Linked DNA regions of Homo sapiens. The protein of the gene in region 1 purifies or fractionates together with the protein of each later gene. This does not show direct contact. Each region holds a gene or a part of one and is shown in the gene's direction. Other genes may lie near its edges. The genes, in order: RAB33A, ERGIC1 and ALDH4A1.

Region 1 (3,650 bases):
AGAGAGAGAGAAAGAGACCAGGCGTGGTGGCTCACACCTAGAGTCCCAGCACTTTGGGAGGCCCAGGTGGGCAGATCACTTGAGCCTAGGAATTTGAGACCAGCCTGGGCAACATGGGGAAACCCCATCTCTACAAAAAATACAAAAATTAGCCGGGTGTGGTGGTGCATGCCTGTAGTCCCAGCTACTCGGGAGGCCAAGGTGGGAGGATCACCTGAGCCTGGGGAAGTTGAGGCTGCAATGAGCCGAGATCATGCCACTGCACTCCAACCTGGGTGACTGAGCGAGACCATGTCTGATTTTTTAAAATTAATTAATTAATTTATTTATTTATTTTTGAGACAGAGTCTTGCTCTGTCGCCCAGGCTGGAGTGCAGTGGCGCCATCTCGACTCACTGCAAGCTCCGCCTCCCAGGTTCACGCCATTCTCCTGTCTCAGCCTCCCGAGTAGCTGGGACTACAGGCGTCCACCACCACGCCCAGCTAATTTTTTGTATTTTTTAGTAGAGACAGGGTTTCACCGCGTTAGCCAGGATGGTCTCGATCTCCTGACCTTGTGATCCACCTGCCTCGGCCTCCCAAAGTGCTGGGATTACAGGCGTGAGCCACCGCGCCCGGCGATTTTTTTTTTTTTTTTAATGAGATCATTTCATGTGTTTAGGGAGCCTGCCTGCTGTGATCTTCCTTTCTGATGGTTCTGAGGCCACACCACTGGTTCTTCTATTTTCTGCTGCGAGCAGCCTGCTTCCTGGCTCCCCTCTCACGACAGACACGTCTGCAAAGAACTCAGGGTGGGGTTTACAAAGAGCTGGAAGGGAGCAGTGCCTGCAGTTTAAATTCGGAGCCTCCAAATAAAAGCTTCAAGGCTCCCAATAGTGTTGGAAAGACAGAGGAGGTCTCCAGCAGAGAGGGCCCTCCTGGCAGTTCCGGCAATTTGGGCGGCATACGCAATTATGAAGCCAAAGAAAAGCCAAATGGCCAACCTCACTCAGCCTCAAACACCTCACACACTCCCACCCGTGTTCCTGCTAGTGGCAGGTATTTTTAGAGTCCTGAGCTCATGGTGTTAAAGCATCTGCCACATGCCTGAGGGCTGGTAGGGATTCAGACTTCTTCAGAGGCAAAAGGCAAGAGTGAAGACTCCTGGGGGGTGGGGGGAGTGGGGATCAGGAGCCAAGTGGTAATGATATTCCTGGGCTATGCCTGCTGTCTTCCTACTGACCTCCATTCCTCCTGTGGTCTGCTCTCCCTTTCTTCCTGTTCGGAACACCACGGAGAGGTGGAAGAAATGAAAATATTTTCTGTCTCTTGCTTGCAGAAGCAAATCAGTCTTTGAGGACTTATGTTTTTTCTGTGTGATCACAGTCAGACGTTCTCTCTGAAATCCCCTTGGCACATATCTAGGATGCCAGACTGCTTGTAGTTTTAGTGGTTCAGGCCATCACTGCCTTTTGATAATGTGTCTGCTGCTGATAATGATGATGATGACAACCTCAGTGACGAGTGTGGTCTGATGCAGAAAAAGACTGCTTACAGTCTTGCTGGAGAGATGCCAAGAGCACTGACGAGACAATTAGAAAACATAAATCTATTCAAAATGGTATGATGCAGACTCAAAGTGCAACAGAGATTCCTAAGAAAAGAGAATTGAAGGGAAGTTGGCGAAGGTTTGAGGAAGAAGCCTGAGGCGTGAGCTTAACCTTGAAGAATGGGTGAGATTTGGATAGGGCAATGAGGGGGCAGCTGATTCTATAGGGGAGGAGTGGACTAGCATGACCCAAAGTACAGAGGAGGGAATCAACCAGGTGTAGCTGAGTAGTTTGAAACCAGGTTGGGAAGGGTCAAATTATGGCAGACAGAATTCCACATGTGGAATCCATGTGATGCCACATACAGTAGAGGGCTGCAGTCGTTTCCTGAAGAGGTGAATGGCATGCTGATACAAGCAGGGATTGACTAAAGCTAGTCAGAAAGCCAGTATTCAGAGATCGGGCACTGGGGCTCACGCCTGTAATCCCAGCACTTTCAGGGGCTGAGGCAGGTGGATCGGCAGTGATTGGGCCTCCCAACATGCTGGGATTACAGGAGTGAGCCACTATACTCAGACTCCAATTTATTTTTATTTATTTATTTTTTATTTTGAGATGGAGTTTAGCTCTGTTGCCCAGGCTGGAGTGCTGTGGCACCATCTCGGCTCACTGCAAGCTCCGTCTTCCGGGCTCATGCCATTCTCTGGCCTCAGCCTCCCGAGTAGCTGGGACTACAGGCACCTGCCACCACACCCAGCTAATTTTTTTATATTTTTTGGTAGAGACGGGGTTTAACTGTGTTAGCCAGTATGGTCTCGATCTCCTGATCTCGTGATCCGCCCGCCTCAGCCTCCCAAAATGCTGGGATTACAGGCGTGAGCCACTGCGCCCTGGCCTCCAATTTATTTTTAAGTTCACTTTTTTGTTACCTAAGGTCAGGAGTTTGAGACCAGCCTGGCCAACACGGCAAAACCCCATCTCTACTAAAAATACAAAAATTAGCCAGGCGCAGTGGCACACGCCTGTTATCCCAGCTACTTGGGAGGCTGAGGCAGGAGAATCGCTTGAACCTGGGAGGTGGAGGTTGCAGTGAGCTGAGATTGCACCACTGCACTCCAGCCTGGGCAACAGAGCAACAGTCCATCTCAAAAAAAAAAAAAAAAAAAAAAAAAAAGCAAGCAAGCGAGCAGTGTTCAGGAGACCCTGCAATGGAAACATCCACAATCCAAAATACTTTGCTCTAGTCCAGGAGTGAGGAGAGGAGAGGCTGGCCGAGGGCCGAGGGACACAGAAATCAGAATAGAAGAAGGGTTCAATCTGAAGGTCTTGCCAGAGGAACTTGGAAGCTGTGTCAATAGAGGGAGATGACGGGGAGCCTGGACAATGAAAACTGATATTCGGAATGATGACTCTAGGGCCCTGTAAAATCTTCACTCAGCCGACAGATTCAATTATATTTACTAGATTATACTTACTGACTGCTAACTCCAAATAAAGGCTATACTTCGTTTTAAGAGCCATAGCAGTCAATTAGTGGCCATAATCAAATTTTCTTTGATAACTGAGAATTGTATAGGGCCTTGGGACCATCATTCTGAGCATGAATCTCCCTTGTCCAAGACGTTGGATATATAAAGGGAAATAGATTGGGCTGAATGTATATCTCCTGGGAGTTATGTCTTTGCATATGTTACAGATAGCAGCTTTTTCTTCATAATTTGGCCTTTATCCCAAAAGCTGAGATACAGAAGAAAAATCCAGTGAATTAAGTTCCTTTTACATAACCAAAAAGTGAACTTAAAAATAAATTGGAGGCTGGGCATGGTGGCTCACGCCTGTAATCCCAGCACTTTGGGAGGCTCGATCATTTGAGGTCAGGAATTCAAGACTAGCCTGGCCAACATGGTGAAACCCCATCTCTACTAAAAATACAAAAATTAGCTGGGCATGGTGGCGCACGACTGTAATCCCAGCTCCTCAGAAGGCTGAAGTGGTAGAATCTCTTGAACCCAGGATGTGGAGGTTGCAGTGAGCTGAGATCACACCACTGCACTCCAGCCTGGGCGACAGAACAAGACTCTCATCTCAAAATAATAAATAAATAAATAAATAGGGCTTGAA
Region 2 (3,650 bases), on another chromosome or scaffold:
AACCAGCCGTCCTGCTCGTGTTCCCCTTCTTAAAATCAGAAGCAGGAAAAATAGTGCACTCTTGCCCTTCCCTACGGATACTTCTGATTTTCTTACTGCCTGTAGAGCCTGGTGCAACTGAGTTCTGTGTTTTCCTGTCTGTGAAATGGGAATGAGGAGAGTACTCACCGAAGTAGAACAGTTGAGGGATGAGGCAGTGCGGAAAGCATTTAGACACAGAGTAAGCGCCTCATCCATTTTGGCCGCCATATTTATTTGTGTCATTTTATTTAAGCACCCATCATCTCCTAACACATTATATAATTCACTTAATTATCATGCTGCTTCTCTCTCCCTCCCATTAGTACATGAGCTCCTGAGGGCAAGAAGTTTTTATCAGGCTTCTTCAAGGTTGCATCTCCAGCACCTAGAACTGTGCTTGAGCCAAACTCGATCCTTGGAGATGCCTCTTGAAATCTGTCAAGGAAGCCATAGACATGACGTGACTTGATATGCCAGCTTCAGTGGGCAGATTTTCAGCCATTAGTGGAGAAATCTCCCCTCTCCACCCTTGAATCTGCCGTTCCTAGGTTGTTTTTGGGGTTAAGGAAGGAGGCAGAACGCAGGGGAGGGAGGCTGAGCTTTCAATGATTTATTGTGTTTGCTTTGCTCTTGTTAAATTGTTTCACTAATGGCTGGCTGTTGCAGTTGTGGAACTAGCCTTGTGACCCACATCCGTGTGTGTTGTTTCGAGTTCCGGCTGGCCTGGGGCCAGTAGCACCTGCTGCCTTCTGCACACCAGCCCAGGGTGGGTGAGGAGGGAAGATAACAGCATCCGGAAGCCCTGTGCCCAGGCCCAGTGGTGCCTGAGCACTGCCTTCCGGGAGGTGCAGGTGGCTGCTGTCCCACAGTGACAGCCCCCATGTTGAAAACCCAAGGCCTCGGGGGTGCCGCTGCACTGGCACTGACCAGATGTGCTCTGGGACCATTGACTTCCCCTCTCGGAGCCTCCATTTCTTCATTTTAAGGAGGGGATGTAAACTTCGCTGCCTCACCTGGTAGAGTAGATGTAGGGGCAAGTGTGATCAATGCACACTTGCAGGATCAATGTGCAATGCAACTTGCAATGCAGGATGAGGCCCATAATTTGTGGGGCCCAGTGCAAAATGAAAATGTGGAGTCCCTTGTTGAAAAAGTATTAAGAATTTCAGGACGGCAGCAGCAGCGCATTCAGCCAAGCATGGACCCCCCTCTGAGTGTGTGACCCTGTGTGCCTGCACAGGTCATGCGGCCCTGATGGGGCTGGCCCTGCTGCAGGGCCTTGGTTTGGCCTCTACCATTTTTCACTCTGGCCTTCTGAGTGGTCTTTCTCCCTCCAGGATACCCCAGACCTCCTCAGGACTCCCTAGTGAGCTTTCCAAAGTTGATCTGATATTTTCATGTCCTGATTTCAACCTTCAAATGGGTCTCATTGCTCTAAGGATCCAGTGTGAATTCCTTTTTAAAAAAAAATTATATAGAGATGGGGTCTTGCTATGTTGGCCAGGTTGTTCTTGAACTCCTGGCCTCAAGTCATCCTCCTTCCTTGGCCTCCCAAAGTGCTAAGATCACAGGCATGAGCCACTGCACCTGGCCCAGTCTTAATTCCTTAGGCCCCAATAGGGAATGGGACCCTGGTAGCCCCATCAGTTCCTACACCAAGCTAAGCCTCAGCCACCACAGGGACCTCTGAGCACAGAGTTAACATTCAGCAGAGAGTAGCTAACATGAATGCCTGTATTTCTACCCTGCTGTTTCTTCCAGAAAGAATTCCAAGGAAGCTGACAAGAACATATACTTTACAGCAAGTTTTAAAAAATATAAAATGAGCGCTGTGGCTCATGCCTGTAATCCCAGCACTTTGGGAGGCTGAGGTGGGCGGATTACCTGAGGTCAGGAGTTTGAGACCAGCCTGGCCAACATGGTGAAACCCCGTCTCTAATAAAAATACAAAAATCAGCCGGGCTTGATGGTACATACCTGTAATCCCAGCTCCTCGGGAGGCTGAGGCAGGAGAATTGCTTGAGCCCGGGAGACGGAGGTTGCAGTGAACTGAGATCTTGCCACTGTACTCCAGCCTGGCCAACAGAGCGAGACTCTGTCTCAAAAAAAAAAAAAAAAAAAAGTATATATATATGGGCCAGGTGTGGTAGCTCACACCTGTAATCCCAGTACTTTGGGAGGCCAAAGTGGGAGGATTGCTTGAGGATTGCAGGAGTTCAAGACCAAGCTGGTCAACATAGCAAGACCCCAGACCCCATCTCTATGGGGAAAAAAAAATGGCCAGGTGTGGTGATGTGCGTCTGTGGTCCCAGCTTCTTGGGAGGCTGAGGTGGAAGGATCTCTTGAGCCCAGGAGGTGGAGGCTTCAGTGAGCCATGTTCATGCCATTGCATTCCACACTGGGTAACAGAGCAAGACCCTATCTCAAAACACACACACACATACACACACACACACATACACACACATACACATACACATATAGCCTTAAAAATCAGGGCAAAAAGAAAATAAAAATTAGACCAGAGAGAAAATTATGTGAAAAGGCCAGTATTTCGGGTTTATTGAACATTTGCTAGTGCCAGGCACTGTTGTAAGGATCTTACTGTATCAGCCCCTTTAATTCTCCACAGTCCTACAAGGGAGGTGCTGTTGTTACCCCACTTTACAGGTGAGCCAGTGGAGGTGCCACAGAGTTCGGAAACACGGTCGTTCCCGTTCCTGGAGCTGGGATTGGAACACTGCCATTTGGCACCAGAGCTCCACTGTGTCCTGTAGGCTCATCTCTAAAGCTTTCTCTTTTCCATTCACTAAATTCAGAGAGAACTGAGAACTCTTCTAATTGGATTCATTGGGTTTCTCTTCACTAATCCTCACCCAACAGTGCTCATTAAGAAGCTTAAAGCCATCAACTTTTTTCCCCCTAGCCTCATGTAGCGTGATACCTGATTCTGAAATGGTCTTTAAAGACCCTCACACCAGCTAATGGCATCACCCTCGAGGGGCTCAGTTTTCCCACGCTGACCAGTGGGGGTTTTCCAGCTTAGAGCATCATGTTTACCTGCTCGCGGGGACATGGAATGAGATGGAATGTCCTCTCCTCCCAAGGCCGTTTGGATTCCTGACTGTGGTGCTGTAGTAGCAGGAGACAGGGCTTTAGCCAGCTGTGTCCTGGTTAAGTTACATTCCCCATCTGGTAATCCTTTCGTATTTTATTTGGAGTTACTCCTAGCCAGTTTTTGTCAGGCGTGGGAGAGACAGGCAGGGTGTGAAGAGGGTATTTGGGGTGAGGCTTACCCGGTACATCTAAATCAGTGAGCCTCAACCCTGGCTGTATATTAAAGTCTCTCATGTGATTCTAATGCACAGCCAAGACGGAGGAGAAGTGCTCTGAATTGGGAGAAGCAATAGCAAGCAGGGCTGAGAGCAGCAGGGGAGCCAGGTCGGGTGGCGGTGGAGAGCCTTGCCTCGGGAGGCTGGGGCGTGGAGTTCCCGTCCCACCCATCACTCCTGCATGACCTTCGGCAACTCTGTTACCCCACCAGTGAAGTGGACAGTAAGGGGCCGTAACTTTCTACTAATAACCTTGCTCTTCAAAGTGCAGTCCCAGATGCCAGCTTCAGCAGCACC
Region 3 (3,650 bases), on another chromosome or scaffold:
TTGAGCTGGTGAACACCAGGCCTCCCAACTGACTGTCTCTTTCCTCCTTTAACCCTGACTTCCTGTTTTTTTCTCAATCAACTTTACCATCAGTATCCTCAGTTCTCTTTGGAAACAGGCAGGATACAGATTAATAGCCAGCCCAGGCATGTAGTAGGCTTATAAGAGTTCACTTCTGTTCCTTATTTCTTGTGCCAAGCCCAGACATGACTCCAGCTCAGCCCGTCTGACATCAGGGGGCTTGTGGGCCGGAATTGGTTACTACCGTGTCCCCTGCAGTGATCCTGGGTGGTTTTGGACTCTTCTCAGGCTACCTGATGGTTTAATTTTCAAAATATCAAAAGCACACAATGCTTTTCCTAGTCTGCCCAGCCCTTGGATGGGCACAGCTTGCCCTGGGTCGAGGGCTGGCATTTCCCACCATTCCTTAGACATTCTCTGCTCTTGAACTCCTCCAACCAGTGGCTGGGGCAGTGCCTTTGGCCTGGAATGTCCTGCTGGCCACCTCGGTGAGCCCATCCAGTGCTTTGTGGCCTTGGCAAGGCAGCTTCTGTCCCTTCAGTATCCTCGTCTGCAAAATGGGGATGATTGTATTAACAGCCACGTAGCAGGTGGCTGCAAGGATTAGCGGTGATGTGATCAGTGGTTTCCTGGATGCTGGTACCGAATGCGTGCTCTGTGAGTATTTGAGTTGGAGAATAATTAAAACCTGTGATTATCATCACACTTCTAAAGTAGTGAAAGCGCCATTGAGGCAGTGCTTGGCAGTGGCACCCCTGGGAGCAGCCTGCCTCCTGTGCCCTGCATCTGGCCCGGCACACAGTAGGCGTTGAACGGTTGCTGTTGAGATGGTCCAGAACACAGCATGGCTTGGATCCTGGCTCCAACTCTTGGCAGCTCTGTGGCCCCGGGCAGGTTACTCACCCTCTCTGGGCTCCCTTATGTTCTCATATGGAAAATAAAGATGACAGTAGTAGTCACCTCATAGGATTGTCCTGCGTGTTAAATGGTCTCATACATGGAAAGCACTTTGGAGTGCCCAGCACCTGAAATGCTCAGTAAGTGCTGCTGTGGTTATGATGATCCCCCTCTCCCACCAATGGGCTTCCTGGAGTGATCATCTTCGATCAGGAATATCAAGACAGCAGGGCCCAGCAGTGAAGGATGGTGGCAGGAGGGGAGGTATGGAACTCAGATGTCCTCGGTCTCTTCTGTTTATTCCAATTAAGTACCCCAGATGCCAAACCTCTTCTGTTATTATTGTTGGTTTGTTTGTTTGTTTGTTTTGGAGACAGAGTCTCACTCTGTTGTCCAGGCTGGAGTACAGTGTCATGATCTCAGCTCACTACAGCCTCAACCTCCTGGGCTCAGTCATCCTCCCACCTCAGCCTCCCAAGTAGCTGGAACTACAGGCGCACATCACCATACCCAGCTAATTTTTGTATTTTTTTTTTTTCGTAGAGACGGGGTTTCACCATGTTGGCCAGGATGATCTCAACCTCCTGGGCTGAAGTGATCCTCCTGCCTCAGCCTCCCAAAGTGCTGGGATTATAGGCGTGAGCCACTGCGTCCGACCTTCTGTTAGGGTTTTGACCCTGCTCACCTCAGGGGATGGAAAAGACTTCTCCCTTTCTTGCAGCCTCCTTAATCCCCAAACCTTCCCTTTCCTGGCAGAGGTCATGGCATGGAGTGAAGAGTCCCTGGGCTGAGCTGCTGTGCCAGTGGACAGCTGAGTGACCTTGGGCAAGTCACTGCCCACCTTGGGGCGGCGGCTTTCCTCAGGTGGAAATGAGGTTCTAGCTGTATGGTGAGGAGGATGAACGTGTCCCATCAGCCCCACCTGACCATGGGCCTCTGAGATGTTCCAGGTGCTTCAGCCATACTGTAAGTCTCCTGAGTAAGGAACAGCTGGGGTCAAATCCTGCTCTGTCACTCATGAGCTGTGACCCTGAGCCAGGAGTGAGTAACTCTGAACCTCATCCGTAAACAGATCATTCTACGGTCGAGTGTCCCTCATCTGAAATGCTTCAGAACAGAGTGTTTCGTTTTTTGGGTTTTTGTTTTTTTGAGACGGAGTCTCGCTCTACCTCCCAGGCTGGAGTATAGTGGCCAGATCTTGGCTCACTGCAACCTTCACCTCCTGGGCTCAAGCCATCCTCCTACCTCAGCCTCCTAAGTAGCTGAGACTACAGGCACACGCCACCACGTCCAGCTAATTTTTGTACTTTTAGTAGAGATGGGGTTTTGCCATGTTGGCCAGGCTGGTCTAGAACTCCTGACCTCAAGTGATCCGCCCTCTTCCGCCTCCCAAAGCGCTGGGATTATAGGCATGAGCCACTGCGCCTGGCCGGAAGTGTTTTGTATATTGGACTTGCTTGGATTTTGGAGAATTTGCCGAACAAGTTGAGCATCCCTACTCCCAAGTTCCAAAGTCCAAAATGCTCCAATGAGCATTTCCTTTGAGCGTCACGTTGACACTCAAAAAGTTTCAGATTTTGGAACATTTCGGATTTTGGATTTTTGGATCAGGGATGCTCAACTTGTCATGCGTTCCTCATACGCTTATGTGGTGGATTCAGTGAGATGATCCTGTCTCACTTAGGTTAATGCTTGGCATGTGGTGGCAAGTGCTTGACAAATGTTGCCTGATGTTTGCTGGGCAGTGGCTGAAGCAGCTCATCCCTGGCATTGGGTCTTTCTTTCTTTTTTTTTTTTTTGAGACATCGTCTCACTCTGTTGCCCAGGCTGGAGTGCAGTGGCACGATTTTGGCTCACTCCAACCTCTTCTTCCCGGGTACAAGCAATTCCTCTTCCTCAGCCTCCCAAGTAGATGGGATTACAGGCATGTGCCACCATGTCCAGCTAATTTTTGTATTTTTAGTAGAGACGGGGTTTCACCATGTTGGCCAGGCTGGTCTCAAACTCCTGACCTCAAGTGATCCACCCTCCTCAGCCTCCCAAAGTGTTGGGATTACAGGTGTGAGCCACTTTGCCTGGCTGGGCCTTTCTTTCCCTCCAGGCCCCGCCCTGGGCCCTGCACTTTCTCTGCTCACCTAGTGTTGCCTTTATGTCGGTGATAGGGAGGATTAGCCTTATCAGGCTCCAGATAATGGCTGGAAAAGTCAGGAGGCTGCATGAAGCAAAGATAATTTCCTTTCTATTTCTCCTCTCCTTGTCCTTGGCCACCCCTCACCTTAGCCACTGGGGAACCCAAGGGGCCAGTGTCCAGCCCCAGGTGATAGCAGAAGAGCACTGGCCTTGGAGTCCAGTCCTGGGGGCCTGGTGTCAGCTCTGACACTCATGCATTGATTGTATTTCTCAGGTGCTTACTGTGGCCAGTCAGTGTGTTAGGCTTGGGGTGCCTGGTGGTGAATGGGATGGGTACGGGCTGGCTGTGTGGAGCCTGTGGCCTGGCGGGCACACAGATGGTCAGTCAGAGCTCTATAATAGGGTTTTCACTAGTGCTTCCAGAAAAGTCTAGAGCTATGAGAGGAATCCGATAGGAGCCCCATTCCGGCTATGTGAGGTTGGACCAGTGGAGGACATCTCAAGCAGAGAGGACCCCAGAAGAGACCGGGGTGACCGGATTGCACCAAATGGGGCAGGGTGATGGGGAATACATTTGGAGGCCTTGGTAAGGATTCTGATGT

The links.
Region 2: the proteins of RAB33A (region 1) and ERGIC1 purify together in Homo sapiens (affinity purification with mass spectrometry; one large-scale study listed by BioGRID and IntAct). This does not show direct contact.
Region 3: the proteins of RAB33A (region 1) and ALDH4A1 purify together in Homo sapiens (affinity purification with mass spectrometry; one large-scale study listed by BioGRID and IntAct). This does not show direct contact.

What each region holds. Positions count from the first base shown.
Region 1 is NC_000023.11:130,178,332-130,181,981, forward strand, and holds part of RAB33A (ras-related protein Rab-33A), read left to right. Parts: intron 1-3,650.
Region 2 is NC_000005.10:172,837,118-172,840,767, forward strand, and holds part of ERGIC1 (endoplasmic reticulum-Golgi intermediate compartment protein 1), read left to right. Parts: intron 1-232; exon of another isoform or gene 233-456; intron 457-3,081; exon of another isoform or gene 3,082-3,650. UniProt on the Homo sapiens protein: Possible role in transport between endoplasmic reticulum and Golgi.
Region 3 is NC_000001.11:18,895,960-18,899,609, reverse strand, and holds part of ALDH4A1 (delta-1-pyrroline-5-carboxylate dehydrogenase, mitochondrial isoform a precursor), read left to right. Parts: intron 1-2,461; exon of another isoform or gene 2,462-2,539; intron 2,540-3,650. UniProt on the Homo sapiens protein: Irreversible conversion of delta-1-pyrroline-5-carboxylate (P5C), derived either from proline or ornithine, to glutamate. This is a necessary step in the pathway interconnecting the urea and tricarboxylic acid cycles.